Linked DNA regions of Homo sapiens: all the other regions are linked to region 1. The links come from fine-mapping of genetic effects on plasma protein levels. A gene starts in region 1. Each other region holds a variant in brackets. All regions are shown on one strand. Distances are from middle to middle. Region 1 holds the start of COL3A1 (collagen type III alpha 1 chain). Region 2 has its middle 330 kb from the start of TFPI. Region 3 has its middle 22 kb from the start of TFPI.

Evidence for each region. PIP is the chance, under the fine-mapping model, that this variant and not a neighbour inherited with it causes the effect. Protein levels are from antibody-based Olink assays in UK Biobank. Linkage for the fine-mapping came from a reference panel and not from the study's own genotypes, which makes the PIPs less certain.
Region 2: its variant is fine-mapped to the plasma level of the COL3A1 protein (UK Biobank, PIP above 0.99).
Region 3: its variant is fine-mapped to the plasma level of the COL3A1 protein (UK Biobank, PIP above 0.99).

What each region holds. Positions count from the first base shown.
Region 1 is chr2:188,964,308-188,975,499 of GRCh38, reverse strand. COL3A1 (collagen type III alpha 1 chain) reads right to left here and starts at 1,127. Exons shown (of 51, transcript NM_000090.4): 1 at 932-1,127. The coding sequence starts at 1,010. LOC105373791 (a long non-coding RNA gene) reads left to right here. Exons shown (of 3, transcript XR_007087614.1): 2 at 5,021-5,153; 3 at 8,834-9,042.
Region 2 is chr2:187,877,002-187,888,193 of GRCh38, reverse strand. No RefSeq gene overlaps it. Among named protein-coding and RNA genes, the nearest start is that of TFPI, 330 kb to the right of the region's middle. The variant T/C (reference allele first, on the strand shown) is at 7,145.
Region 3 is chr2:187,571,292-187,582,483 of GRCh38, reverse strand. No RefSeq gene overlaps it. Among named protein-coding and RNA genes, the nearest start is that of TFPI, 22 kb to the right of the region's middle. The variant T/C (reference allele first, on the strand shown) is at 6,436.

The sequences.
Region 1 (11,192 bases):
TTTCTATGGAAGTTTGTATTCCAATTTGTTCAGCATTTTCATGACTATGGTAAATAAAAGAATATTTTCACATAAATAATGAGACAAATGTGTTTTTAGGGGAAATTAGAATATGAAAAACATTACATGCAATTATTAGAAAATATAGCAAAACAGCTTTCTGAAGTCAAACAGTACTAGTATCTTTACCTTGTTTGCAGCAAAGTCAAACCTCCTGTTGAAACATTTTAAAAAATATTTTCTTCATTAATGCGAATGTGGTTAAAACGTAGAATATGTGGAAAATATTAGTCCCTTAATATCAAGCTACTAGAAAAGATGAATTAATCAATCATTCTTGAAACAAAATAAAAACAGGAATAATAAAATATTTTAGCAGTTTGATCCCTTTGAAGAATGTTTATAGGTATCTTGTAGCCATTTTACAGAAATATATTCAATGATTCTGATAATGCGTAGAATCTTCCTTTAGACTGTTCTTAATCCATGATATTTGAAAGGCATTCTTATTCAGAAAACAATGCTCAATATTCTAACCTTACAAAGAATCCAGCAGACAAAGAGGAACATAAAATTATTGCAAGAGACCAATAACTTCCAGACTGCCTGGGGAAGTATTCCAAGATGTTAACAATCCAGGAGGGAAAAATTTTAAAGCCATTTTTAAAAGTTTCCAGTGCCTTTAACATGAAAACAAGTTAGTACAAGAACATCTTATCTTAACCACAGAACTCTTAAAAACACACATAACGCGATTATTTTTCAAGTAATGTAAAAAGCACAGCCATGGTCAGTTCAACGTTTCACAATCTGGAGCTTATAGAGGAAATTATCTTGAATCAGGCAACTGATTTTCCCCTTTACACCCCTCTTTGTGAGGAGAAGAAAGACAAAAATCCCATAAAGTTTCTTGAAATCAGTACCTACTCACCTTCCTGTTGTGCCAAAATAATAGTGGGATGAAGCAGAGCGAGAAGTAGCCAGCTCCCCTTTTGCACAAAGCTCATCATGTCTAAATATCAGACATGAGACTCTTTGTGCAAAAAGGAGAAAAGAAAAGCAGTTCAAAGTAGCACCATCAAGTTGTTCCCTGCCCTTCAGCACCGGGCCCGTCATAAAACTCAGCCACTGAGATTCCTTTGCTTTGGCCTTAAATAGGAAAAAGTTTGGCTTCCCTCACTTTCCAGCCCCTTTCTGAAATATGAGAGCCGCACCCATCCCCTCAGCAGTAAAAGAAATGATAAATATTTCTTTTTCCCTTATAGAAGACACAACCCACAGTAAGAAAAAGAGCACATCTGGAGTTTGTATGCATCTGCTTATGTAAAAGTTTTTTTACATATTTCACTCTTACATATATGTTTGTATAACTTAGGAACGTATAGAAATGCTCTGCCTTGTTTTAATACATACAATGTAAATGCATACATTTTTATTTCCCCTTATGAAGTTAACAACTGCATAATTTTGAAAAACTGCTTGATGCCCATTTATCTAGTATGTCTAATTTACAGAACTGATCTTCCTAGAAGATTTTTATGTTGGGATTTTGCCAGAAGTAATCCTAACTCAATTTAAATAGGAGACTGTAAGAGACTCACGGAAAGAAATGCCACCGTATGCCCCTTCGACTCATCCACCCACCCTGGGTCCTAGAAGTTAAGTTTCAGGCAAATATCAAAAGACAAAGTATTTCAGCAATGTTTGAATGGCTTCCTAAAAGTTAGATACTTATCTATAGCTGTTTCCATTTCTCACAAATTTCTTTAGCAAGCCAGAGTGCTTTCTTGTGAGATTTCCAATTTTTATGCTGCCTGGGAAAGACAGAGCAGATTTTTCTAGAGAAAAATTCAGCCTTTTCATGACATAACTTTTTAGGAAACTGGAAGAGAAAGAGTTTATCACATAGAATAGCAAAAGAGTACCAGAGAAAGTGGTCATTTTTTCTGCATTACTCTAAAGATTAGTATAAATATTTCTAATTTAGACTTTTATGTGTATACTTTCCAGATCCTCATCCACAAAACTTTCCAATGTATTTCTGGATCTATCTAAGCAGTAATTTTTGTGTCATATTTGAAAGAGGGGCAAATACCATTTATAGGTCTTTGATAAATCTCTGCAGGAAAAATATGCTTGTCCACAGTATAAGGCTATATCTGGCAATGGAGATATCTCTTTACACCCTAATCATCAGTTCATAGTTAGTTCATCTATCTCTATAATCTACGGTGGACATTTCAATTCTAATCAAGGTCACTTGAACTAATTTTCTTCACCTTCACCTAAACATGTCCGTCTCTATGCCTGTGCACATAAAATTCTCCCCATTTCACACCAATTAATGGAAGTCACTTCCTTATGCCTCAATGCAAAACTTTCCTCCTTAAGTAAATTACCTCCTTTAAACTAATTTTCATCTTTCTCTTTCTTCTAATTTGTGTTACTAAATTTTCACTCAACTCATGTCATATGTATATTCCCAGGTGTACATGAATCCTGTAAGCATGGACAGTGGCAAACTTGCTTTCTTGTTTCTTGCATCTTTTTTTTTTTTTTTTTTGCGACGGGGTCGCCCTCTCTCGCCCAGGCTAGACTGCAGTGGCGCAATCTCGGCTCACGGCAAGCTCCGCCTCCCGGGTTCACGCCATTCTCCTGCCTCAGCCTCCCGAGTAGCTGGGACTACAGGCGCCCGCCACTACGCCTGGTTAATTTTTTGTATTTTTAGTAGAGACGGGGTTTCACCGTGTTAGTCAGGATGGTCTTGATGTCCTGACCTCGTGATCCGCCCGCCTCGGCCTCCCAAGCTTTCTTATATCTTCAGTCACAAGGACACAAACCAAGACATCTCAATGTAGATGACATCATTTGATGACAGGAAAGGAAAACTAGAACGAGACCAACCTCTTGTGTATCTTTATTTTAGATTGGAGAGTCACTGCTTGGGGGCGTGGGAGAAAAGTAACTGTTGAGAATGGTCATGAATATAAGCTTTTCTACTGGATCACAGTAGAGATGCTGGGGAAAGGCTGTTATATGCATCTTTCTGTCTTTCAGACATCTTTGTCCTGTACACAAAAAATATTTCCTGTGTTCAAACCAATTCAGAAACATAGTTTTTCTCATGATGTCTTTGTATCTACGTAGAATTCATATATCTATATTAGATTTCTCTCATTGTTTTAGGTGGTCTATAAAAGCTGAAATTTATTGAATTTCTTCATTAGATTTATTTTCCACTGTGAAAAATTAGAAATGTTATTTTTAAAATAATGCTTGTTATGCTTTATTTTAGGCATTATAAATAAAATTACTATTGTTCTAAAATTCTTAATTTGCTTAGCTATTCAAATAAAAGCCTTATACTCATGAGAAAAATTCATGATTGATGCACTCACTTAAGAAACATTAGCTGATGTTTTGCATATGGAAGGATTGTTGTATTTTAAGGTCTTCAGGAGAGACCTAGAGAATTCATTCTCCAGATATTCTGATTTACGATTCTTCACTACCTCGAATATGGAGGTTTTGCACTAGGATCCTTTGCATTCTGTGTCCCAGATCCTATTTTTCTACCTCCTGTCAAAGCATTTCCTAATACGGGGTCAAAGCATTTCTTAATACAGGGTCTGAACTAGGTGAAATGCATACACTTCTGAATCCTATTATGCCATCCAGGAACTGCTGTCCTCATTGTTATCTAGCCACACATTTCTTCCCATACTTCCCTGACTTCACTGATGTTAACCAGGACACATAAACATGTCATTTTGCTTTTTGGATTGCATTTGGAGCTTTAACACAAATCTAAATACCTGCACCAACTAAAGCACTGATTAATCTGGATCTCCTTTAACAAAGAGAGTGCCTGGAAAGATGAGGCAAAGCAAGGGTGTGGCAGATTATCAACCAAAAATTCAAATCTTTTCCAATTCAGTGGAAAGTGGAGCTTGAGAGAGATGCACAAGCACAGCTGTGATGAACTCAGTAGGCCAGTGAATGCCAGCAGCGCTTTCTACAACAGCACTAAGAAAATCAATTATCTCCACCATGGAAAACACATGGAACAGAAATGTTTCAATGTTTCTCTCTTTCCTCTCCCCTCCCCTTTGTTGTGCGGCTTTATGTGTGATTTTCTTTTTGAAGCCAGCAAGATGCTTTATTTTTAGGGACATTTTCTAGATTTCAAATCACTGTAAAGCCATTTAAAAACTACTTGTGATAATAGAACTACCAATACAACTGTAAAATACAATGCAGGTCTTCTTTATTATTCCCAGAGAGGTTGATCAGTTCACTCAGTTGATAAAGGTAAAACCACATTTGAAGAGTTGTGTTTCCTTTAAAAGAATTTGAACAAATACTAGTATGTGCATAGTAGAGCCAAAAATATGGTTGAAAAAGTCATGTTGTACTTGCAGGACTTAAACATATTTAACCATAGATATGTCCAGGATTGAGGCAAATTACACTGGCAGTGGGACATGATAGTCCAGTTTTTGAGTGATTATATGACCAAGTCTTCAAGACCCTTTTCTTTAATTTCCCCTTAGTCCCCAAGGTAGAGTTCATTGACCCCTTGTTTTTTTCTTATAGAACCATTTTAATAACCATTTCTTTTTAGCCTGGAAATTTCACTTTTGTACAAGATTTATATTTTCTTGACATTTAGTAAAATAAAGTTTTAGTAAAATTTAGTTAGGAAACACGAAGTATCTCAATTCCTATCTATTCTTTGTTATTAAACTTAAGGCTCTAAATTTTTATCTTTGTATTTTGCAACTGAAAAGTATCCCAAGAATGAACAGAAAGTTTAAAGAGGTTACATGACTCTCAAAATTACTCATTGGAATTGTAAATAACTAAAAATTTTCACTTTTGTACAAAATCCATATTTTCTTGACATTTAGTAAAGTAAAGTTCCAGTAAAATTTAGTTAGAAAAAACTGAGTATCTTGATTCCTACCTATTCTTTGCTATTAAAGCTAAGGCTCTGAATTTTTGTCTTTGTGTTTTGCAGCTGGGAAGTATCCCAAGATTGAACAGAAAGTTCAAAGAGGTTCCATGACCCTCAAAATAATTCATTGCAACTGGAACTGACTAGCACACTTTACAAATATTTTCACCATGCTTTCCACTAATCACTGATTGTGGTAAAGATATTTTTACGCAATTTAGAAGTGTGGTAAATACAAATCTGACACTTAATTTTGTATGTTTTCTAATGAGGCATTGTGAAAGGATGAAAAAAATGATAATGTTATGGAGTTAATGGCCAATTTACAAAAATTACCATTCTGATTTTTGTCTTGTCATTAATCTTTGAGTAATTTTCAGTATTGTATTTAAGTAAAAGTCCACTACTTTACACTTAATGAAGTACAATCTTAGGGCATGCAAAAGAGTTCACATATGTGTTTTTGTGTGTTTGCGTGTGTATATGTTTATATACCCCCCACATATATATGTATAATTAAATACGTATGTATATACTTTTAAAAGCTGACAAAAATTCAAGCAAGTAAAAATTTCTAGGAAACTTCCTTAATATACATGTAAGATAACTTGTATTTGTTATATCAATGTTGCTTCACATAAGTAGATAAGTAGCTATGAGTTTTTGCTTATGTAGACATAAACATGTCACCTGAAATCTTATTTAACATAACAGACTATTAATCATTGAAAGGGAAACTACTGGTAAGCCTCTACTTGAATTGTGAAACTTTCTGAAGTATTGTAAGCATGTTCTCTTGAACGAAGTTCTGATATACTTATATTTTAATTATAGCTTTATTTACTATCATAATTATTATTGTAATTATATTTGAAAATTCATAGGAAATTGAAATTCATCTCCTTACCTAATCTCATTCCTGAATAGTGTGATTACTTTATAAATTTACCACAGGGGTGACACAGAAACTGGGATGCCACATCGTGAAGCAGCTCAGGCGTTCCCTGTTGAGTCTTCAGTTAACTTAATCATTCTCAGGGTTGAAGCTCCACTCTGCAAATCCCACTAGACTCTCTATCAAATATAATTTGTCATCTGAGTCATCCTTAGGAATTTTCAGCAATATCCAACACAGCTGTAACAGCTCTTCAGATGTAGCCAATTCTGTGTAAAGATAAAAGGAAGGCCCAAATCACGATCTTCTGATAGATACATGAAATAGGTCAAAGCCAAACAGGGAATCTACATGCTTCAAATGGAGACTGATTTTTAATTCCTATCAATATCTTTTCTATTCAGATACACAATGGGGGCTCAGATTTAGGATCTTTGATTCCAAATAATTCTTAAGTACACAAAAATTGAAAGCCTCCTCATCAGGCTCCCTTGCCTAAAATAAACAGACATAAACAGACCTTTCTGTGTTTAACTTGCCATGACTATTAAATTGTCTACTAAATTGTCTAAAGCCTTCATTTTTGTCTGTACATTAAATCATGTTTAAAGAACTCTACATTTAGGTATGTTCTTGGTATATGTTCTTGGAGGAAGGAGGCCACAGCAAATAGTCTCCTTTCGTTCCCAAGGATTCAAGTGTTGCCCTCTGGAGTCTTGGCTTTCTTGTGGCAATGTCCGTTTTAGAAGCATTGTTTTGTATTTCTTTATGTACTTATTTTACTCCTCTTTGTAACCTTTTTTGTTTCCTACCCTCACCCACTTTTAAAAATCATGAACAGTAGTAAACACAGTCCCTTGTACATAATGAATACTGATCAATGTAACGAAGACTGACTGAATTAGGATGGCATTAAATAGTATTTAAAATATTACGTGTTTAATAATATAAGCATTTCTTAAAAAAATCAATATAGGACCCAGACCATGGATCAGTTTCTGCTCTTCACCTCTTTATTTTATAGATATCAGATATATTTCATAAAGTGATTAAGGTGAAACATATGACTCATGAAAATAAACTAGTCCAAGTAGAAAGTCTTCACATAAAAATTATGCCATATTGATTATTCAAAGTGCTAACCTTTGGATAATAATACTAAATAGATTAATATAATTTGATTTCTATTATTTCATGTCCAGCCACTCTCTCTATTTCTCAACCCAAACCCAGCAGGATACAAAACACTATTTTAGATAATTCTTGATATGCAATTCATCTTGATCCAAGAACTATCTTCTTAGTAAATCAAATGGCTCTTTTTTTTTTTTTTTTCCAATACCTACTCTACATTTCTGGGTTTCTATACCTTTGCATATACTGTCTTTCTGTCTAAAATGATTGTTCCTCATTCTGTATGTTCAAATCCTATTTTGAAGATTCTACCCAAAGATCAACTAATCTACAAAATCTTTCTGATCCTCCCTGTTAAAATCATTTTGCTCTTCTTCTAATTTACCTTACCTTTCCTATGCCTCTTAGTTTATTTTAATTTACATCTTTTTATGTCGTTTACTAGGCTGAAAGCTACTCCAGGGAAAAACTAAGGTTTATCTTTCATTTTATACTCCATCGTAGCTATTACATGGCCTTGTGCATAGTAGGAAATTAATAAGAATCAAATGGCGAATGATTTAAAATATGAAACACTTAATCCAGAAAAACACATTTGAAGTAATCTATTTCCTTTGTATCCTTTAGAACTCATGGTAATTTTCAATAAGTTAATTATTTCCAGTATTTCCATCACTCTTAAAAAAGAAGGTCACTCTTTCCAGCATAGGAAGTCTTTGGATTTATAATCGATTTAAAAAACTTCCAGATGTTATGAATTTATTTATAAAATAGAAAAAATAAACAATAGAACTAGTTAGGAAATAAATTGAAAGCAGTCAAACTCTGTGTTCACCACAAGTATTACAAGTCAGAGACCATTAGAAAAATTTATAAAATAGAAAGAAATACAGGTAATTTACCAAGGATCATGAAAGAGAATGACAGAAAAGCCAAAAGTTAATTTCAAAATGAATTGAAATAATTGAACTAGAAATGCATCATAATTTTAATTTATTTTTATTTTAGGGTAAAAAGAAAAAAAATGACATATAAATAAGCATCATGAAATTAAAATGCTTCAAAGAGGAATTATCACACTTTTTGTTTAAATTGTTTTCATTTTTCTTGACTCAATTTCCTTACAGTGAAATTTTTAAAAGGAAAAAACTGTGCAAAATGTCAAATAAAAAAAGAAAAAATACAAATCAAAATACTGAAAATTCCTTACCTTCCCACAAATACAGACACCCCACATGTAATGTAAGACAAATGTCTAAAGCTTTATATTTTATTGCTTGATTTATTAGCTTCAATTCCCATGAGAATTGTGGGAACTTCAATCTGTTTAGTTGAGCATGCTAAGGAGACATACAAGGCAGGTAATAGTATTCTAGAGTGGTCCCTTTATGTGTAGAAATTGTAATCTATTTTTTGGTTGTTCAGGGCAAGGTTAGCTGCAAAGTGGACAACCACATTGACCTAGATTCAGCATCAGGGGTGTGTCGCCATGGATTGTATCCTGGTGCCCAGCTAAAACAGTCACTTCTAAAATTTTAGTTAGGGTGTGGCTGGCGGTGTTAGATCAACAGCTGAAGGCTAGCTGTTGGAGGTAATGTGTGATCAAACTGGGTAGGATTGTGTGAGATTTCCCTGACCCTTCCCATTTCCTAACTTGAAGTTGTGCAAGTGACATACTTTTTATGGAGAGGAAGGGGAGAAAAAAAGTACATTCGCTGGTTATTTGTTATGATGACTAACTAGAAAGAAATAAGTAGCTAAAATAAGGCTCTTGAATTATTTTATGATACCAATATTTCCCATTCAAAATATGATCGAGAACTGTTTGATCTTTTGTTATCACATAGATTTAGAGGTGAAAAAAGATACATCTTGGAAGATTTCATCGAAATTAACATCAAGCTGAAGAAGATAATTTTATAGCTGCACTTTTTGCTATAGCAAACACCAGGGCAAAATATGGCCAGACAGTCAACTGGGACAGCATGACACATCACTGGAAAAAATGATTGTTGAGTACAAAATTACGAGAAAAGTAAAATCATTGTTGAAGCCACGTTAGCATACTCTGCTCAAATTATATCTGATTCTCTAGACACGTCTTTTGGAAGATTCCCCAAAACAAAAGCAGAGGAATTACATAAATGGTTTTACAGGCCAACCTTTCTGATTTAGTGTGCTGTAAGTTGCTTACAATGTTTCTCCAAGTAGGGGATCCAGGAAAATTCCTAGGGGTTGTGGATTTTGGAATTTCACCAAGTCCTTAATGATTGCAGCCCACTAGTTAGCAAAATCCTTCCTAGCTGTTATTAAGAAGAAAGTATGACAAGGCAACCAGAGGAAACAACAGCAGCAGTGATAGCCAGTCAACATCTCCAGTGCCTATATGTACCCATCACGGTGTGTGTCAGCTTTCTTCACTGTTATTCCCACCACTACATTGCTGTAGTTAACTTTTCTTCTGCTTCACTAGAAATAAGGATAATGCTTCTCATTTCTTCTTCTCAAAAGTTTAGAATTTAGGGACAATGGGCACCAAAATTTTGGGTAAAGATATTTTACAATATTAAAGAAGAATACCTAAATATGGATCATATTGAATGGCTGCATTCCAAAAGTGCTTCATTTATGTTCTGATAGTTATAATAATTTGCTCATAATTATTACTTTATGTTTTCTGCAAGACTGGAAGCTCCTCGGGGAAAGAGTTGCGTCTGTTTTGGTGGTCACTGTTTCTTTAGCACCTAGCAAGCAGTCCAAAAGGGCAGACATTTGGTAAGGACCTGTTGACTGATGAGATGCTGAGATTCTAGTCAAATATGGATGATTCAAAGTTTTCTGGCAATATCATTATTTGTCCAATCTATTTTATATAATTTAAGTTTAAATTAACCCCCCCCCCCAATTTTCAACCTTGAGTTGTGGTTTTATAAGAAAATTATCATTTTATAATAAAAGTATCCATGTGTGAAATCTTAGGACATTTTTCTTCATTTTTTTTTAACTTCCAAATTAAAATCCCTGCCAAGTGAAAGAAACACAAGGAAACTCAAATAATTTGCCAGAGTCAAGTTTATTAACATTTTCCCAAAGCCTATCTTATTTGAACTGTTTATTTTGGATCCCTATCCAAGAGATAATTTTTTTTCCCAAAAGCTTATAAGAAAAAGCTTGGCTTGCAAATGTTAGTTTGCATAGATAAAGGCAAAAAATGGGGTTGAGTGAAGAAGAGGAAGAGAGTCTTTCACAATTAAAGTAGTCTCAGAAATGGTTTTTGACTGTGCGATTTAAGTAGTTAGCCCTAAAAAGTGTCATGCAGAGAGCTTCAATCATCTCAAAATAAAATCTGAGAAATATTAAATATCTAATGTCTGATGCAGTTCCTGGCATGTTAGTTGCTCAGCAAATGTGTATCTAATGGTGAATTATGAAATGGGCTACATATGTTGATTTTCTTAGTATAAAAAAGTTGTTATGAAAAAATAATTGTAGTTTTTTTATAATTAAAACAATAAAGCATTTCTGAATAATCATAGCTATACACACACATGTACACATATATAAACTTAGAATAGGGCTCGTGCATACTAGGTACTATACACTCACACACAAACACACTCACATACACACACAGAAAGTACCCTCATCACATTCTTATGAATGTGTACTACTTTCATATGTTTTTTTTAAATGAGTAAACTGATTTGTCTAAGATTACACACTTGGTAAATGCCAGAGCCAAGATGCTAATCCAGGAAGTCTGGTTCTGGAATCCATTCTTTTAATCCCAATATATTGTGTGAATTTAATACCCCTATGCTTTTAAATATGTCAAAACTATATATTCAAATAAGTGGTTTCCTCTTTGATGGAATAATTTTGAGTAACTACATTTTGTTCAATTTTTTCTCAATTACTTATTTGTTCAAAACATATTATTGTCGTGTTCCTATAGGTGGAATCATTGAGGGTAGGCTTAATTGTTTTTAAATGCCAAAAACAATTTGTTGCAAGTTGTGGTTTGACATTGCATCAAAAAATATGAATACATAGTAATGATTCTGATTTTTTGAATGTCTCATAAAATGATCCTAAAGGAAATTCCATAGAGTAGTTCCAAAAGTGTTTTTGAAAAATATGTGAGGATCCAGTCAAACATACATTCTTTCTGTTGTGATTACAAAAATAAAAGTAAATAATAGAAAA
Region 2 (11,192 bases), 1.1 Mb after region 1:
CCAGCAGAATACCCTATCTTAGTAAATGGCTATCACAGTGTTTTAGATGCTTAAGTAAAAGTAAAAAATCTTGGAGTCTAACTTGACTCTTTTCTTTTTCTTATGCTTTCCATCTAATGCATTAATTAATCATATCACCATGTGTCTTTATTGGATATTAGTGTTGAAGACCTTTGTGATATATTTTGTAGATTAGAATAAGTAAATCGTCTTTGCAGCTGGAGCCTGAATAGGAATCTTTTGTAATTTAGTATGATATCACTTGATGGTGTATTTAAATAATACTTTTCTTTTTCAGGGAGGTGAATTAGTTAATTTATTTTGCTAAAGGTTGCAATATCCATCTGCTAAATACATATAGAAGCCCTGACTGTTTATAATAAATGTGCAATTATATGTCATAGCCCATATAAAAAGTCTATGCTGTTCTGAAAACATTTTAATTGGTTCTTGTCTTAATTCAGAAAAATAACTTGGGATTTCCCAGAGCCATAAAAGTATTGGGTCTGGAATAAGCAATTTGTTTCTCAAATAAGACATATAGTTTAATTTCCCTCTGAATTTCAGCTTCATTAAAGCAAGTTCTCAATCTCTGAGATGTCTTATAATTATTGTTCAATTCATTTCATTTTTTTGTGCTTATCACTAACGGAAGTAACTTCTCATTTGCACTTACAATGTATTTATTTCACAGGATGTGAACAGTTTGATTTTGCATTGTCTTTAAGGTTTCTTAACTTTGGGTAGGTTACATTTTCTAGTGGACTGTATTTCACTTCTAAGACATGTAACATTCAAAGAAAAAATATCTACATTTTTGAAACCTTAAATTGAGAAAATTGTATTTCTTAATATGTAAAAAGAAAATTTGAAAGGTGTACAATAGTTCTATGATTAACATAATTGTGAAACAACCAACATGATACAAAAATTATTGGGTCTTGGTTTATTTGTTTAGAGGAGGAATGGGAACATGTACAAACTAGATGAGAAATTAATGCTTCTCTTCTTATACAGCATATGAAGATCATTAGTATATCACTATATGCCATTGCTATTGCCAGTGAAATTATATTTTATTGTCTGTGACCAAGAATACCACAATTAAAATGATAATTTTAAAGACAGGAATCTCAAATTCATAGATGATTTCTAAACTCAGATTACTTGTCTCCAAGCTGAAAATGTTTTAATGATCTTAGGAAAAAACTACGGCATTCCTTCAGAATATATGCAAAAGAACAACAAAATGAAAGTTATGGAAAGATGTTTGACACATGGACATGTCTATTGATTTCAAAATTCACTTAATAGATGCCACAAAGGCAGGGAATTAACAATCACAAAGGAGAAAAGAAAGAAAATATGTAACATAAAAAATATCCTGAGCTGAGAAAAGATGTGAACTTTTGAATTAAAAGTCCACACTGAATGCCAAGTGGGAATAATCATTTTTTAGATTTCCACCAAGACAAATTCGGATAAAATTTTAGAATTTTAGAATTTTAAGTAAAAAAGGGAAACTCTAAAATCATTTGTAGGGAACATAAAATACAGAAAATAGTGTATATATGTAATTTATATGTAAATACTATGCTATTATATATATTCTCTGTATATATCATATTTGTATTCATATTTGTATAATGTTTATATTTATCATCTATAAATTTGAGATCCTTGTCTTTAAAATTATTTTAACTGTGGTATTACTGGTCACAGGTCACTGCTGTATGTATCCTAGGGACTTGGTGCCCTGTGTCCCAGCCACTCTATCCATGGCTGAAAAGGGCCTAGGTACAGCTCAGGCTGTGGCTTCAGTGAATGTAAGCCCCAAGCCTTGGTAGCTTCCATGTGGTATTGAGCCTATGGGTGCACAGAAATCAAGAATTGAGGTTTGGGAACTTCCGCCTAGATTTCAGAGGATGTATTGAAATGCCTGGATGACCAGGTAGAAGCTTGCCTCAGGGGTGGGGCTCTCATGGAGAACCTCAGCTAGAGTAGTGCAGAAGGGAAATGTGAGATTGAAGCCCCCACACAGAATCCCCACTGGGGGTCACTGCCTGGTGGAGCTGGGAGAAGAGGGCCATAGTCCTCCAGACCCCAGAATGGTAGATACACCAACAGCTTGCACTGTGCACTTGGAAAAGCCACAGACGCCCAACACCAGCCCATGAAAGCAGCCAGGAGGGAGGCTGTACCCTGCAAAGCCACAGGGGCAGAGCTACCCAAAACTATGGGAACCCACATCTTGCATCAGTGTGACCTGGATGTGAGATATGGAGTTGAAGGAGATCATTTTGGAGCTTTAAGATTTGACTGCCACACAGGATTTTGGACTTGTTTGGGTCCTTTAGACCTTTTGTTTTGGCCAGTTTTTCTCATTTGGAATGGGTGTATTTATCCAATGCCTGTAGGTCTATTGTATCTAGGAAGTAAGTAGCTTTTGATTTTACGGACTCATAGGTGAAAGGGACTTGCCTTGTCTCAGATGAGACTTTGGACTGTGGACTTTTGAGTTAATGCTGAAATAAGTTAAGACTTTGGGGAACTGTTGGGAAGGCATGATTGGTTTTTAAATGTGAGGGCATGATATTTGGGAGGGGACGGGGCAGAAAGATAGGGTTTGGCTATGTCCCCACCCAAATTTCATCTTGAATTGCAGTTCACATAATTCCCACGTGTTGTGGGAGGGACCTGGTGGAAGATAATTGAATTATAGGGGAGTTTTCCCCATGCTTTCTCTTGGTAGTGAATAAGTTTCACAAGCTCTGATGGTTTTATAAAGGGAAACCCCTCTCACTTGGCTCTCATTTTCTCTTGTCTGCAACCATGTAAGACATGCCTTTAGCCTTTCATCATGATTGTGAGCCCTGTCCAGCCACCTGGAACTGTGAGTCCATTAAGACACCTTTTCTTCATAAATTCCCCAGTCTTGGATATGTAAATATTTACCAGCTGCATGCGCTCGGCTAATACAACTAATACATCTCCCACTCTCCTACACCCATTCCATCTACTACCACTTTTCTCACAGGAATGTTAATACCAAGTTTTCCTGGGGTGACAAACACTGTTGGGCTGGGTTCTGAAGAGCCAACTTTCTTGGCCAAGCTGAATAAGATGGGGAGACAGAATTATTTAAATATATTGGCCAGAAGCAAAATAGGACCACAAATTCACAAAGTAAAGAGAGTATCAGCAGGAACTACGTAGAACACCTGTGAAGGTCCAGTCTAATGAACATGAAAATGGTTGGTGTGTGTAAATCACCCTTTCGTTCAGTTGAGTATATGAGTAGGCATAGCTTAAATGATTGGAGGAGGTGTGGTTATCTCTTTAGTTTTCCATATTCTGTTACTTCTATCTGGAAATAATCTTCTTCTACATCTACTTGACCCATGCTTTTTATTGTAGCTTTGTTTTACGTTTTTTATCTCTTGTAACCATTTCCAAATCTTTCTGGAAATTTCCTTCAAGAGCACTGTTGTTCATACCCAGTTTTACTTCTGCTCCCATCATATTTTATTCATTCCTATACTATAGCACTTACTATACAATATTGTAGATATTGATTTTCTTTCATGACTTTTCAAGTGCATTGAGAATGCCCTAATTGCAAAGACTATGTCTTCTTCATTTCTGCATCTCAAGCAGTAACTCAACACCTGGTATATCCTAGGAAATTAACGAGTTGATTGAATGTCTAATTAATGAAACCAATAGAGCCCTCATTTATACAAAAGTATTATCATTTGCAAAATTATATTGTGTATCAAATACAACTGTGAAAGATTATCTTTTTTGAATGCCTCTTTCCTTTTAATTTAAAACTTACTTATCAATTATATCACTTTTAAATTTTGTTTCCACTAAATTTAAAAAATATATACTATTTTATTTGATTCATTATTGGGTCAAATTTTCTTCAGTTATAGAGAAAATGGGGATGGATTTCCCCAAATATGTGCTGACTCTTGGGAAAAACTGCCGAGCCAAAATGTGTCTACATGAAAGTTGCTGACTCTACAGAGGTATGTATATTGGCAGAGACTGATCTACTTGAAAATCTCTTCCATATAAACCCTACATTGATTCTTCCTGTTCTAGTAATAAAAATGAAAGTGATAGTTCTCAAAATATAAAAAAGAGCTGTTTTTAAGGACCAAAGTGAATATTTTAGCAAGACTTTGAATTATAGTCAATTATAGCAAATAACATTATTATAATTAATAATTAAAACTTTCCAGTATGTGAGATAATGCATATGTTAAACAGATTTAGCTATTTTGCAACATATATTATTTCAAAACAATATGTTATACATATAAATATGTAAAATTAGTATTTGTCAATAAATGTTAAAGATGTAAACCAAAGGAAAAAACATTTCTCATTTATTTATTTGGCCTCTATGTTACTTATGGTAACATATATATGTATGTAAAATATGTATTTTACCATTATACACACATGTGTGTGTATATATAATTTTATAAAAATAGTATAAACACAACTCCAGTAGATATTATATGCATGGCTTAAATTTTATGATTAAAGTAGAATATTCCCAAATATGGCATCCAGAAATTTCCTTGGAATGAATAGATAGCTGAACAAAATCTTAATTTGTACATCTTGTTTGAAAGCACTTTTAAAACAATGTAGTCAGTAATATTTTATTAGCGCTATCCTAAGTAACTGAATTATGACCAGTTATATATTGATCTTCTATCCTGAAATCCTGCTGAACTTACAGTATAGGTAGTTGTGTGTGTATGTGATTTGATAAGGGTGGGGTTGCGTGGATCCCCTTAGGGTTTTCTATATAAAAGATCATGTCATTTGTGAATAAAAACAGAATGCTTTACTTCTTCCTTTCCAACCTGGATGCCTTCGATTTCCTTTTCTTGCCTAGTTGTACTGACTGGAAACTCCAGTGCAATACTAAATAAAATTGGTAAAAGTGGGCATCCTAGCCTTCTTCCTAATATGAGAGAGAAAGCTGTCAGTCTTTCACATTAAATATGATACTGGCCTACATTTTTGATAGATGCCCTTTATCAATTTTAGAAAATTCCCTTTTATTTCCAGTTTTCCATGACAGTTTATCATGAAAGTGTGACAGATTTTTGTCAAATACTTTCCTGTGTCTGTTGAGATGATCATGTGGTTCTTGCCCTTTATTCTACCAAAATGGCTATCAAAAGACAAAATTACAACAAATTTAGTTTAAGTATTTCAGTTGGCCTTGTTTTTAATTCTGGAAGCACCAAAACTTCATTCCATAAAATAGAATAAGTGTTTCAATGAGCTGAACCAAAAGGGTTGGCTCTTTAGACAGGGAAGAACTGAAGAAAGCAGAAGCAAAGAACAAAGAGCATTTTATTCCTTTCAAAGATGCTTTTCTGGTAAGGCAGGGACAGGTGGACAGAACAATAGAAAATAACTGATTAGTCAACATCAGGTTACTTAAAGCTACCATTTTTGTGTAAGGATTAGAACACAGGGAACTTCATTGTTATGCCCATTGAAGTATTTAAACTGGTCTGTTCAGGAAATTGGCTATTTCTCCTGATTTCTTTGATGGCCAGACAACTTAGTTTGGGTTGCGTGACTGTCCTTTGCTTTTTAGTCTGGTCTGTTACAGCCTAATATAGGCACTTCGTCCAAAACAATGGCCTCCTATATTTTTTAAACATGGTGTATTACATATATTGATATTTTTGGATCTTAAATTGACCTTACATAACCATAAGAAATCTCAGTTGGCCATGGTGTAGAATCTTTTTTATGTGTTACTTAGCTAATATTTCATTGAGAATTTTTGTATCTGTGTTTTTATTTTCATGTAACATCTTAGTCTGCCTTTTGTATCAGGGTAATACTGGCCTTCTGGAATAATTTGGTAAGTATTCCTCGCTTCCTCTCTCTTTCTGGGAGAACATGTGAAGAAATAGTATTATTTCATCTCTAATTTTTTGTAAACTTTACCAAAAAAGTGTCTGGGCTTGGGCTTATCTTTATGAGACAGTTCTAAGTTACTAATTCAATTTTTTATGTCGTCTGTTTATTATAGGTTTGAAAGGTGATAAGGAGCATATGCCAGAATATAAATCAATTTACCACTTCCTTCTTTGATAAAGTTTTGCCATTAAAAAATGCTTTAAAGTCATAAAATAGTTGGTTTACAATCTAGTACATTTTCCTTATATTATCAATGACAGTATCAAATATTTTGTGGATTAGTACCTGTCCATGAACTACTGTTTGATAGCAATGGTCTAAATCACTACCTAAACTATGAAGATAGAATTAGTCAAGGTACTTGGGCAGCAACTTGATAGCCTAAACTACCTAACACGTAAGGAAAGATTTATTATGTTATTGTAGGAAAGTTAAAACTTTCTCTCTGACAAGTTGATAATTGAGTCTGCTGAAGTAAACTGACAATAGACAGATCAACAGGAGAAAAACACTCTCTCATGTGAATGGGAGTCACACAAAGTATGAAAACTCAAAGATGGGCCAGATGATTGAAGATTAAATACCCTCTTCATAGGAAAGAGGGAAGTGGGGAATGTAGGCAATTTTAGAGGAAGAGTAAATAATTTTTAGGGGAGATAAATAGGCCCAAAGAACAGATAATAGCCTGGAACAAAATTTCTATGGCTCTGTGTGTGGTGTCAACTCTAGACTTCCTTCCTGAGAGTTAATCTTCTGTTTGGTGAGATTATAAGGGCGGGACCCAAGACAATTGCATTTATTCTGGAGGAATTTTCCTTAGCCAGATAAGGGAATTTTAGGAAAAGCTCCTCTCTGTGCTTCAGGAGAGGCAGAGGGGCAAAACATGAGAAGCGGGTGTGGGAGAAGGTCAGAGAGACCTTGGTTCTGAGGCTGTTTCCTTTGTGCAAAGTACAGTTGATCCTTAAACAACACAATGTTGAATGGCAAGGGTCCTTGTATATGCAGATTTTTTAAAAATAAAAATTACACCAAGTATATCTGCCTCTTCTGCCTCACTTCTACCTCGTCTACCTCTTCCACCTCTGAGACAGCAATACCTACCCCCCTTCTTTCTCTTCCTCATCCTTAGCCTACTCAACCTAAAGATGATGAGGATAATCTACTTCCACTTAATACA[T/C]AGTAAACATATTTTCTCTTTTTGATGTTTTTCTTAATAACATCTTTATTTTCTCTAGCTTACTTATAAGAATGTTGTATATAATACATATAACATACAAAATGTGTGGTAATTGTTCATATTATGGGGAAGGCTTCTGGTCAACAGTAGGCTATTAGTAGTCAAATTTTAGGGGATTCGAAATGTATGTGTGAATTTTTCACTGTGTGGGTGGCTAGTGCCCATAAGTCCTCCATTGTTCAAGAGTGAGTTGTACTCAACAAGTCAAAGCACCATACTTTGGGGTATCATTTTGCTGAGCCCCAACATTTTGCTGGAGAATATCATGGAACCTAAGGATAGGGAAATGGCCAGGTCTAAGGCAGCATCTGTGGCAATGAACTGGAAAGTCTTTTTGACAACTAATAAAAGACATTTTCTCTATAATCTTATTTTTTTACACTAATCAACTTTGCATCTTTTACATAGTAGAATGCAACTACTTAGAATTCTCTGATTACATATTTTGATCTTTGATCTCATCCTACCGTGGATGTCTATCTGTTTCTATAATGATCACTTGTAAGGGGTCATGGGCATATAGTACAAACATCATGTTTTGGGGACCCTAACTACAGGGATGGAAAAGGCATGCAGCAGAGAACATGGTCTGGCAGAAGCTACCAAAGTGTCTCCTATTTATACTTTAATATGATGTACCTTAAAACTCACTTTTGGGACTAGCCCAAAAAACTTGTAGCGCATTACTTTAAATGTCTCCAATTTAGGTAAATATTTCAAGGTAAAAATTACCTTTCAGACAGCCATATTTAATTTTGTTTGAACTTGTTATTTGAATCAACTGGGTTATCAGGCTATGCATGTAGCCTTTAGAAAAAAAATAAAATAAGGTGAGAGATCCAATATTCAGTCTGATTTCCTATATTGGTAATAAGTCATTTGTAGAGCTTACCAAAGAGTCTGAAAACATATTGAGTAATGGAGAAATGCATAAACGCCTAAGTACATCATTTAAAAAAATAACATTTATTCAAATATACGTAGTCTTATTTGGAAATCTTAGTAATTTACTCTCACTAATGTTTATCATATATTATATGGAGGCAGTTCCAGACCAAAGACAGTAGATGTGAAGAAATAGTACTCAATTAACAAAGGGGAGACTTGGTTTAAAAAAAAATGTGTGTGCGTGTATGTGCGTGTATATGTGTATATGCATACATACACATATATATACAAATAAATACATGTAAATACGTGTGTGCATATAAAATACAATATATTTCATATGTGTAACCTCGCTAGCATAACAAAGTCTTATCACTCAGGAAATTCCAAGGGATTTAGCAGCTCTGTGCCAGGAACGAGGGATAAAGACCAAGTGTCTTTTTAATTGTAGCACAAAAGGCTATTATAATTCTTATCCTTGTTTCTCTATAAGTAAGGTGTATTTTCCTTTGGCTTCTTGTAAGAATTTGTTTTTTCTTTGTTATTTTTCTGCAGTTTTAATGACACGCCCACCTGTGGGGTTTTTGGTTTTTATTCGGCTTGATGTTCTCTGAACTTGCTGCATCTGTGACTTGGTGTCTACCACTAATTTTTAAAAGTTCTTGGCCATTACTATTTCAAATATTTCTTCCTCTCCGTTTCTTCTGTTTTTTTGTTTGTTTGTTTCTTCTTCTGATATTATGTTCACACATATATTACATCCTCTGAAATTATTGTGAATATTCATATTCATTTTTTTTTCAATTCCTTTTCTCTTTGCCTTTCAGTTTAGGAAGCTTCTATTAAGTTACCTTCAAGCTCACTGCTTATTTCCTTGGCTGTGTTATGTCTACTGATGAACCCAAGAAAGGTATTCTTTATTTTTATTGCAGTTCTAGAGTCTTCAAATTCCTTTAGTGTCTTTGTTTTTAGCTATGCTCTTGACTTTGGGCTTTTCCTAAGTACCTCTTCTAGATAGTCTGTATGTTACAGCTAGTTCAGCTTTAGAACCCACAGCTATCATATGAAAGCACCGTTGGTATGGTAAAATAGTGTGGTAGAATGGGAGCCTTCCATAAGCTGATTAAAACTCGATCTTTTGGGAGGCCTGTGTCTCAGGGTTGTAAACTTCACAAGTGTTTCTCCAGTGATAAAGCTTTTTCCTCTTATAATTAAATCATTGTACCATGGCCCTATTTATATCTTTTTTTGCTGTCTATAATGGAAATAAAAACCAAGACAGTGCTTATTTTTTCATATATTTATAGGTTCAGATAACTAAATGCATGCAAATTTTGCACACTCTAAGTGGCTATGGTACACTGTCAGTGAGCAACATCTATTTTATTGGTGTGTTAAGCAGAAAAACTGTAGTATGAAAAGATAATACAAATATCCTGCTAATATCTTTATTTCAATAAATTGAAATTAATATGAATGTAAAAAGTGAATAAAGACACACACACACACACACACACACATTTAAACTAGATTTATTCACATGAGAAAAAAGAACAGATTTCCAAGTTTGACCCTAGAGGTTTTAGATACTTGTGTAATAGGCATATGATCTAGTGTTCTTTTTCTTCTGTTTAAGAGTCTTTGAATTAATTCACATTTGAAAAGGCCAGAAGAGAATGAATCTTATTTATTTATGATATGTCTTAGTGGAAAACTTCATGTTCATATTAAAAAAAGTACTAAGAGGAAAGTAATTTCAGATGCTGAACAATCAGCAATTTAAGCAAAATCTGTCAAAACCAGATGTTGTTTTGACAATCCATTCTAAATAGACTTGTTTTGCATTCCTATCTCTGGTTTCAAAATAACAGTACACCAAAACAATGTAGTCTTCTGTAAAAGAGATTCTGTTTTAGTGCGTAATGTTGGAACAAAACTTGTTGAGGGTGGGTGGATGAAATAGGATGATTCCATTGCCAATGAATTGAATTAGAGTGAATTTATTTATTATTAACATCCAACATAATTATCATAATTATTTCAAAAGTAGGTAAACAATAGTTGTATTTTTAAATTTTATTTCTAAAAGACTTTTTGGAGGGCAATGCTTTTTTTGTTTGAAAACTGGCCACTCTGTATTCTTAATTTTTGTATGTTTAAAAAGCCTGGACCCTTTATTTTATTTTTCAAAATAAATTCTATACTGTACTATTTACTCTATTAAAAAAGCTTAGGCAGATAATTTAAACAATGCATGCATTCTATTAGTAACAAAAGAAAAAGGATAAGAACGAATAGCTTTCTGTGTGCAAAGCAGGAATCTGAATGGTTATAATTTACTGGGGTACAAATCATTTTGAAGGAAATAAACATCACAGTGTTGTCCAGGTTAGCTGAGAATTAATTTTGATAAGTGAAGAGAACCCAACAGAGTAGAAAAGGAAGTGTTGCTAAGGAAAGATCCAGCAGTCTGCAGTTAGAAGGGCAAGTCTTGGAAGTGACAGTGTTCCTTTGAGTGGAAGAGCAGGCTAACTTAACAAGGGACTTTTACACTTGCAGTAAGTGCAATTCTGTCTAGCAGGTTGATAATTAAACTTAACAGCAAGTCACAAATATGATTCTTTCCTTCTCAGGTTATAGACAGTGAGATGATGACTTAGATGCTTATAACTAGAATAACACTAAAATAAATCAGATTCTTTAGAACAATATGTAAAGATAATTGTGAAGAAATTAAGATTTTTATACAGGTTCAATGGATAAAACTCAAAATCATAGTTTAGTGAAAAAAAAAAAACAAAACTCATAGCTTAGTAGAGTAATTTGAAGAATTTTTTTATCTGTCCATTGGAGAAGTATTACTCCAAATGCTACTTATATATCAATTTTAGCTATTTAAGTTATCCTGCCATATTTTAATGAATATTTTGTCATTAAATAATAGGTGGTTGGTGATACTGCCATTTGTGAAATTCAGTTAGTTTTATCTGCCTTCCAAGTACAGCTTTTATCTTTTATTGGACTTAGTTGTATTTTACAACATTTATTAGATAAAATCCCAGCTATTTGACAAGCTCTGGAATTTGAATTCAAACAAACA
Region 3 (11,192 bases), 1.4 Mb after region 1:
CAAATACATTTTTTCTGCATATTTAGGTATTTAGTTAATTGGTTATGATGCTTGGATTAATAATAAATGAAAATACATAGATAATTCATAAGTATATGTTTATTCCATATTGATCTTCCTTGCCTTCATTTCAGCAAAACCAGTAATTATATTGCAAGCATGATCATTGCATCATTTTGTTGTACTGTATTTAAGCGCATGCAATTTGAAATATTTTTTCAAAAATGTAAATTCAATTAAATTTAAACATTTTTAAACATCATCTTTTCAATAAGTTTTTTCTTCTAAAGAATTCAAAATTACTTATTAAAATGCAAATACAAATTGCAAATTTATTATGAATATGAAAATTTAAAATAGCCAAATGAAACCGAAACTTTAATATTATTTAAAAATGACTATGTCTTAGTAAATGTTTTAAGAAAAACAAAACCATCATCAGTTCTAATATTCACCTAGCTGCCAATAGAAAGAACCATGATTATACTTTCTGTGTTGTTTATAGACTTATATATTAACAAATTTGAGTTAAATGAATTGTCGTATATAGGAAAAGGTTCTTTCCCCTCCTTGTACAACTGGTACAAATACCTCATTTATTTGTATGTTCCTTTAGAAAGGAATTAGAATCAAACTAGGACACTCAGCACTTTTGGGAAAATAATGCTTAACATTCTATGATCCATTCCATTATTCCTGTTACTTGGGACAAAGGATTTGACGGGGTAATTACTTATTTTTTATCTTAGCTGAGCACTTTTGCCACTCAAATCCTTCTTGTACACAGAAGCAGGAAAATGGGGTAGCTTTCAATGAAAAAGCCTGAAACACCTTAATCCAGTGATCGAAGTGAACATTGATCGAGACAAACCAAAATGAAGTGCCCCCTGGTGGAAGGAAATGAGAACAAAACAACCTCACTTTTGTAATAATCCTAGAAGATAACGCATAACCTGAATTTAATTATGTGGAAATAACAAGTTACTCCAAATTAAGGGCATTCTAAACATGCCTGTAATCCTCAAAAGTGTCAATAGTAGGCAGTCATATTAAAAACTAAGCTATATCTCTATGTGGTTATATGGAATAAACCCTAAGACATATATTTTAAGTTTTAAAAAAGTTAGAGACCAGTATTTTAGTTTTGAAAAAAATTCTAAGCATTTAGAATTCATTTCAGAACAACAAACAGTTAGTGATTGTCACCTCTGGGATCAAGTAGAGAGTGAGAAAAATATATTTATTTTCCACTTCCCACTTTTCTGTACTGCATAATTTATTTTAACCTGAATATAAATTGTATTTAAATTTTTCTTGAATAAAATGTATTTTGAATTGTTTTGAGTACTACAACCTTTGTTTTTGAGTCTCAGAAAATAGGAAAATATTTTCAGGCCAAAAATAACACTGTTGTTAATTTAGTCAACACGAGACTAATCATAGCTTATGACACTTGGAGTCTCAGTCGTCCCTGTAATTAACTAGCTATATAGGTGTTTGGGCAAGCACTTGAATTTTTTGAGGTTTAATTACTAATCTTCATAAATGAGTTTTCTTGTAGTTTTAACTTTCTTTTTAGAACATGAATTACAATTTATATATCATGTCGTCAACAGAGGGCAGTAATTAACCACAAGTAATCCCTGTTCTCTGAGCAAGCATGAATCATTTTAATAGAATTTGAAGAAACATAGTATTCGAAGGACCACCATTTTCTTCTCTATTCCTACAAATTTTGATCACATTCCAGTTTTCTCCTCTCCAAACAAAGACTTCAACCAACCAAACACTTCTTATTTCAAACAACATCAGTCCTTTGGGTTAGAAATAAAAACATAATAAAAGAAGAAAGATTATAAAAATAATTTCATGATGACAGAAGGGGCCTTGCCAATGCGAATCAAAATGTCACTTACTCTCTGCCTTCTAATCACTTGCATAGTGGGTGTCGATGCATTAGTGCCCACTGGAACGATTACAGACAAAGGAGTAACAGATTTGAGTTTAAACTATGCTTGGCTCCTTACTGCCAGTAAGTACTAAAACTCTGGCCAATTTAATTGAGCTTTCTAATAATTCTCAAATTTCTTTAGATTTAAAATAGTGACAATAGCTACCTTAGAGGATTGTTTAAAGATTAAAATAGTTATTTGAAAAGATACAACAGTACTAGGTATTAAATAATGTTTATTATTACTATACTACTATTATCATTATACAGATTTGTGTTAGGACAATAGTATCTAATAATAGAAAGAATATTGCATTTTATCCTTAAGCTTATGTGTATATATACATATATGCAAAATATATACGTAAGTTTATGTAACATATGTAATATATGTACATATGTTTACCTAATATAAAATAAGCAAAGAACATAAATAACGATTCACAAAAGAAAAAGAAAAATATCCAATAAGAAAATTAATATTCAACTTCGCTGTTACTCAATGGACTGCAAATTTAAAATTTTGCCAGGTTTTGCCTATAAAACTGAGAAAAAAAATTTAAGTGTCATTAAAGGAGTTTACTATCATAAACTGTAAAGTGCAAGTGACTAGAAATTGACATAAAAATATAATTATTCACCATGGGATTCAAATTTTAAATTTTTTTTTAAAAAATCTGAATATGAGATGAATAAAATTTTTTCTTTACATTTTAGATGTTGAATAACCAGTGAAAACCTCCCCAAGATACACCAACCTGACTCTCTATAAATTAAAAGGCATAAATAAACAGAATTTTACATGAATAACTTATTTCTAAGCAGCTTTAAAAGGAGATATATCAAAAGGTGAGACATTCTTCAGTTTGTTGTAATCCTCCTTCAGAGTAAAAGTTGTGATCATTGGTAGAATTCACTTTATTGTGGTTTTATCTGTCTTGCCCTTTGCTGTTTTTTTAAATCCTTGAACGGTATTTGTCATATAGTTGGTGCTTAATAAATATGTCTATGTGATATGTATATGTGCTATTTTTTCATACTTTTTAAAGTTTTTTCTAAGAAACTTGTAAGTAAAAATATTTTAATAAAATGTTTATAAACTTACAGGAAATTATTTTCAAATGTCTAAAATAGAGATTATCTGTTAGCAATATTTTTATGATTCTTACCAAAAATCAGTCAAACTCTCTGTCTGCTAACCATTCTTGTTTTTGTAGATGTGTCTTGTATTATTAGACAAAGGGAAATAGATAATCACAAAACCATTAGCTTTGTGATTGTTAGTGAGCCATGTTTCCTCAGAGTTCCAAAAAGCATGGACCAATGTCTTTTTTTTTTTTTTCTGGTTCCTCTTAGAAAAAATTAGTGAAAACACAAATATATACTTAATAAAGACAAAAAAAATATTTTGAATAAAAATTATTATTCAGACCAGGTGTGGTGGCTCACACCTGTAATCCCAGCACTTTGGGAGGCTGAGACAGGCAGATCAGAAGTTTGAGACCAGCCGGGCAACATGGCGAAACCCTATCTTTACTACAAATGCAAAAGTTAGCTGGGTGTGGGGGCACAGGCCTGTGGTCTCGGCTACTCGGAAGGCTGCGGCATGAGAATCATTTGAACCCGAGAGGATGCAGTGAGCTAAGATCATGCCACTGCACTCCAGACTGGGTGACAGAGTGATACTCTATTCTCAAATAATAATAATGATATATATATAAAATTCAAACTTAGTTACTCATAGAAGACATTTGAAAATTCAAGTGATCAGAAGGAATATAGAATAAAAAAGACAAAGTGTATTCAATTTCTTTTGAACTCATACTCTGGTATCATTGAGATATATGGTCATGAACATAATCTTTGAACTCTAATACAATACAGACACATTTTAATATACCACTGTACATATTATATATAGAAGTTAGTCCAATCCTCACTCAGAAGAACTTGTACTCTGGTCTAAGTCTTGTTTTAGAATAAATTTACCCACGTCTGGCGCCTTTACTCCTTTAGTCAATACTCAACCAATGCTACTCTGCCTCTACAAATTTTTTATGAGATTGTGGTAGCCTAGAGGGAATATTACCAGGTAAACATTTCTATACTTTTAAATTGTCCTCCCTGGGAGATAAATCTTCTAATAGTATCATACTACCATTGGAAGATGTAGCCACTTACGTAATAAAATATAGAAGTCCATGGATCTGTGGCTACAACCTGGCTGACTTCATAAGCTGGGACCAGCCTAATTCCTTTGAAGTAAAATATATTATTAATACCAATGTGGTAGCAGAGATACAGGCCTTCTAAAATATATTGCCTATGAAATTCAGACATTTTATAATCATTTAAAAGATGCAGCTTTCTAACAACAGATTGTTGGTTTAGTAACTAATCAAACATTTGCAATTAAATAACATGGCTAATAAAATAATGTATTAGAATACAAAAAAAAGTGAAGTCATTCAAAACAGACCACACACTGATAGACAAAATATAATCCATTTAAAAAAAAAAACAGAAACATATATCTGTAGAGCTCTCCATGACTGAGAATATATGGAATAACGTTTTACAATGCCTATAGTTGGGAAATACATATGAATAATATGTACTATTTAAATTTTGTCTTTATGCTTTTATTATTCTCCATAATTAGCAGATATTCTTAGTTAATCAAGTATTTTATTTTACTGGCATTTATTTTATTATTTTATTTTATTTGAAATGAAAATCAGTTGAGAGAATGGCCATATATCATACCCAAATAAACTTTTCTGAGAAGCTACCTGAGAGCCCCAAAGCTCACAGGTAGATAATTAGTTCAGAGGGAGAATGTGAGACACAGAGCATAGGAACAGACAGTTAAGTAGAACACCCCAGATGCAGTCAGGTTTTCAGAGTGAGGCTCAAAGTGGAACAATGGTTCCCAACTGGGAATGATTCCGTTCTTCACTGAATGTTAGGCAAATTCTGGAGACATGTTCAGTTGTTACCATCAGGGGCAGTTGTGTACTGGCATCTAGTGTATAGGGACTAGCAATGCTGCTACATAGCCTGCGGTGCACAGGGCAACCTACTGCAACAAGGAATTACCTGTTCTAAAATGTCAATAATGCCCAAGTTAATATACCTGAGGGCAAATATACAATTTCACTGCTGAGAAGGACAACACATTAGAGAAAATCAGCTACATTTGTACCTGCTTTGCAGGACTGAAACCTTCCTAAAATGAAATTCTGTTCTCAACTAAAGAAATGAACAGAGTCTAGAAACTGCATAAGTCAATTCAGTTGAAACTTTTGTGATGCTCAGAGGTTATAATCAAGGAAAGAATGAAGATGACTACTAGCTGGTCTTGTGCACTCTGAAAAAATCTGGGCAGGATTGTCTTATCTAATCAGCCAGGCTTTCTCAGGCCAGGATCCATCAAGGGCTTAGTTCCCTTTATACAGTCTGAAACAGCAGGAATAGATTGTAAACTTAATTCTTTCTGAGGTCAAAAGTTCCTTAAGCATTCTTAATCAATAAGAGAGATAAGATAATCTATGCCACAAGTAATTATCCCTGAAACTCAATTCATAAAGAGACAGAAATCAGCAAATGTGTATACTGGTGGGGAGATTGCAGTAAAATGGACCTATCCTTACATGTAATTTTCCTGGGAGATTCAAAATGAAATGGTTTTGTATGAGAAGACAAACTTCTTATGCAATTTGCTACTGTCCTTCCTTGCAGGACAGTTAAAATTTTGTCTCTGGACCTATGAAATTATTCAATGTGGTGATCACAGAGTATTTGAGTACAATTTTTGCTAAGGGATGGGTAGTCCATCCTAGGCGGATAGAAGGCTTGCCGCTCTATTAAGTAGAAGGGAAAAAAGGCTCAACTTCTGTGGTTTATACCATGCTATATTCATATACATGATCATCATGCATTATATATACATTAATACAGCACCAATAATAATACTTAAGAGTTAAAATAACTCAAGTTAATTACTTAAATACTAAGAGTTAAAATAACACTGAAAACAACAAAATTCGTTAAAAATAAAATATTATATACAGGATTCAATATTAAATGATTTTCAATGGAATACAAGCAATAAAAGATTAAATGAATAAGAATGTGTTACAAAATAATTAAAATAAATGGCCTAGTAAATGAAAAGCCTAAAACCAGTTTAAAATATAGAAAATAAATAAAAGCAAAACAATTAAAGGCTCATTAAAGAATAAAACACAGAATGGTTAAAAGTATAAATTCTGAGACTTAACATTCCAATGCAGAAGCAAACAGGGTCCTGAGAGATGTAGAAACCATAAAAGCAAAGATAACTGTCCCCTGAGGTTTGACTTTTTTTGAAGGGGGTCCAGGCAGATATCCTAAATGAAATCCATACATTCTAAAACTCTGGTGCGCACAACAGGGGTTAATTTTCAGGGACAAGGCTGTGAATTTATTCTCAGCAGTTTTGC[T/C]TCTCCTTTCCATGGTCTTTTCTTTCTTTTTGTTCACTCACCCAAGGTTTTGTGTGTATTAACTGATCCCTTACATACTACAAAGAAAAAGGGATCATTAATTTGCAAACCTCTTAGTCCTAAAAAGTTCAGTGAAACAATACCTCATAATGGTTAAACTCAAGGATTATAGAGTTGGAGTTAACACTTGTAAAGTTATTTAAACATCCTGTGTGCTATCTTAAGGCATTGTTAAGAAAATCAAGTGTGTTTACTTTGTTAAATTTTGTAATAGCTTATAATCGTTTTGGTGAATAATGGTTTTATAATTCTGTGTTAAGTAAAACATTACTTTTCTTAATTAAATCTGAGCTTAAAGAGAATATGGTGAGCAGACCAATCACACTTCTTTATCAGGTGCATTTCGCATGTGCCAGAACCTAGGAGAAGAGATTGGACAAATGTTTGAGCACTTTTTAAATTGCCTATTGAATTCTCAAAGGAGGTTACATTTTTCCATCTGGACTTTTTTTCTCAATTAGGAAAATTCCCAGAAAGGATAGAGCAGCAAGCTCAGCAGGAAATCCGTGTTCTGAGTTTTTATCTTTCACATAGAGTTGGGGAAAGGCAGGAAGAAACAGGAAATTTAGTCTGCTAGTCCCCCCTAACCAATATCCATTTTTCACAGATGGAAACAAAAGCATACACAAAAAGGGAAATAACAAATTTCTCTTGTGTGCTTTCTCTTGGGCCACAAAATAATTTGTTCCAAGATTTATATTTAATGTTGCAAGACTTAAAGTGATGTCAAGATTACATACAGTGTTATCATAGCTTTCAATTTATTTAGTTTACATAGTTCACATTCTGTGGTTTTTCTTTTAAAATAAAGGCACAGCATAAATGAAGTTTGTTTGCTTTCCTCAAGAGAAAGAGAAAATACAGGCAAAAAGAAGCTTCTTTTGAGGGAAATTCAGAAGGCATTTGTTGCCATGCATGCCTAGCACAGACAGCTAAAGAGAGCTGTAGGTTAAAATTCTTAAATCTTGCCAAAAACGGTCAGCTGCTTTGTGAGAAAAAGCTATTGAAAAGAAAAATCAGTACATTTAGAAAAAGAGTGCTGTTAGTTCCACATGGTTATTACATTGGAAGTTTTTTGGTTATCACATCTTATGCAGATAACCAGGAAAGATATTTTTTACTTTTCATGTACATTGACTTTGGAAACTATATTATAAAAGAGAATAACATCATTATATAAAAGCAAAAGAATACCTGCCCTTTTTATGATGTGATAAAAATGATCAGATTAAATAATGTTTGAAGGACTTTTAATTCGTTTCTACAAATATTATCTTGATAACAAATGGTTATTTTTTCTTTCATTTAGGTAGTTATTATAATTTTTAAAATTAAGCATTTTGGAAAGAATGAACTGTAAAAATGTCTAATATTTTTCTGTTGTATATGTTCTAATTTATTTTTAATTTAAATATTTGAAAACGAGGAAAAGTAGAAAGGAAAATATCCCAAAATTCCAGTAGCAATCATCCACAATTAGTAAATACTAGCATTTTCATTGTAATTGCTCCATGTTATATGTAATAATTTATATTTTATTATATAGTATTTTGTGTAAAATACAGTATTATTTAGTATTTCATATAAGATATATAAAATATTACATGTATAGTTGAAGGCCACATTATTCTTTATAGTCTTTCCCTATTGCATTCCTCTCCCCTCCTTTCTAGAACAAACAACAAAATGTAACTATATGTCCTTTTATTGCATATATAGCTATGTGTATTTCTAAAATTAGGTAAATGATATTGTTCTTAACTTTTACTCTGATTTATTTTTTGTCCTGGTCATGTGTATACTGTATTTTATCTAAATACTGTATTACTGTATTTTATCCAAATAGTCTTCTATCAAATGATTATACCAAAATGTATTTATTCAGTCCACAATGATTAATTTTTAAATTGTTATGTCATTCTTTCACAAATACACATGCACATGTTCATTTACTGCAGCACTATTCATAATAGCAAAGACATCGATCAACCTAAATGCCCATCCACAGAAGACTGGATAAAGAAAATGTGGTTGGTACATATACACCATGGAATACTAGGCAGCCATGAAAAAGAATCAGATCATATCCTTTGCAGTGACATGGATAGAGGTGGAGGCCGTTACCCTTAGCAAACTAACACAGGAACAAAAACCAAATACCACATTTTCTCATTTGTAAGTGGGAGCTAAACATCAAGTACATATGGACACAAAGAAGGGAACAACAGACACTGGAGCCTACTTGAAGGTGGAGGTTGGGAAGGAGGTGGGGAGTGAAAAACTATCAGATACTGTGCTTATTACCTGGGTAACAAAATAATCTATACACTAAACACTCATGACACATAATTTACCTGTATAGCAAACCTGCATATGTACCCCTGAATTTAATGTTCAAAAAAATTAATTGCTTTCAATTTTCAGATTTTATAAAAAATATTACACATATCTTTGTATAAGGTGTAAGGAAAGGGTCCAGTTCAGTTTTCTACATATGGCTAGCCAGTTTTCCCAACACCATTTATTAAATAGGGAATCCTTTCCCCATTGCTGTTTTTTTGTCAGGTTTGTCAAAGATCAGATGGTTGAAGATGTGTGGTGTTATTTCTGAGGCCTCTGTTCTGTTCCATTGGTCTATATATACCTTTTGGTACCAGTACCATGCTGTTTTCGTTACTGTAGCCTTGTAGTATAGTTTGAAGTCAGGTAACGTGATGCCTCCAGCTTTATTCTTTTTGCTTAGGATTCTCTTGGCTTTATGGGCTCTTTTTGGTTCCATATGAAATTTAAAGTAGTTTGTTTTTTCTAATTCTGTAAAGAAAGTCAGTGGTAGCTGGATGGGGATAGCATTGAATCTGTAAATTACTTGGGGCAGTATGGCCAAAGTAATTCTTCCTATCCATGAGCATGGAATGTTTTTCCATTTATTTGTGTCCTCTCTTATTTCCTTGAACAGTGGTTTGTAGATCTCCTTGAAGAGGTCCTTCACATCTCTTGTGAGTTGTATTCCTAGGTCTTTTATTCTCTTTGTAGCAATTGGGAATGGGAGTTCACTCATGATTTGGCTCTCTGTTTGTCTGTTATTAATGTATAGGAATGCTTGTGATTTTTTCACATTGATTTTGTATCCTGAGACTTTGCTCAAGTTGTTTATCAGCTTAAGAAAATTTTGGGCTGAGACAATGGGTTTTTCTAAATATACAATCATGTCATCTGCAAACAGAGACAATTTGCCAGAATCTACAAGGAACATAAACAAATTTGCAAGAAAAAAACAAACAACCCTATTAAAAAGTGGGTGAAGGATATGAACAGACACTTCTAAAAAGAAGACATTTATGTGGCCAACAAACATATGAAAAAAAAAGCTCATTATCACTGGTCATTAGAGAAATGCAAATCAAAACCACAATGAGATACCATCTCATGTTAGAATCGCACTCATTAAACAGTCAGAAACAACAGATGCTGGAGAGGATGTGGAGAAACAGGAATGCTTTTACACTGTTGGTGGGAGTGTAAGTTAGTTCAGCCACTGCAGATGACAGTGTGGCAATTACTCAAGGATCTAGAACCAAAAATACCATTTGACACAGCAACCCCATTACTGAGTATATACCCGAAGGATTATAAATCATTCTACTATAAAGACACATGCACACATATGTTTATTGCAGCACTATTCACAATAGCAAAGACTTGGAACCAACCCAAATGCCCGTCAATGATACAGCCGATAAAGAAAATGTGGCACATATACACCATGGAATACTACACAGCCATAAAAAAGGATGTGTTCATGTCCTTTGCAGGGACATGGATGAAGCTGGAAACCATCATTCTCAGCAAACTAACACAGGAACAGAAAACCAAACACCGCATGTTCTCACTCATAAGAGAGAGTTGAATAATGAGAACACATGGACACAGGGAGAGGAACATCACACACTGGGGCCTGTAGCGGGGTGGAGGACTAGAGGAGGGATAGCATTAAGTGAAATACCTAATGTAGATGATGGGTTGATGGGTGCAGCAAACCACTGTGGCACATGTATACCTAAGTAACCAACCTGCATATTCTGCACATGTATCCTAGAACTTAAAGTATAATAAAAAATGTATATTACATGTATCATTGTTAGTATTTACTGGTGCATAAATGCAGAGTGCAACTTTTTTAAGAATATTAGAGATATAATTTCTGGGTTGTAGATTATATATAATTTTAAAATAACTAGATTTGGCTTTGGGAATTTTTTAATTTAAGAAGGTCAATGGATATTTATTATTATGGCTAGTGAAATATATAAAAGGTAACATAACTACTGAAACAGAGGGGTAGTGTGGTATAGTATTTAGGACTGTATGCTCAGAATCCAACTGTCAAGATTCAAATTTCACTGTTTTCTATTTGCTGTTTGAACTTACACAAGTCATTTAATCATTTCTCTTCATCTGTAAACGGGAAAAATACTATTACCTACCTCACATGTTTGTTGCGAGAATTAAGCTTTTTTTTTTTTTTTTTGAGACGGAGTCTGACTCTGTCACCAGGCTGGAGCACAGTGGTGTATCTCAGCTCACTGCAACTTCCGCCTCCCAGGTTCAAGCAATTCTCCCGCCTCAGCCTCCCAAGTAGCTGGAACTACCAGTGCACGCCACCATGCCCAGCTATTTTTTTTTTATTTTATTTTTAG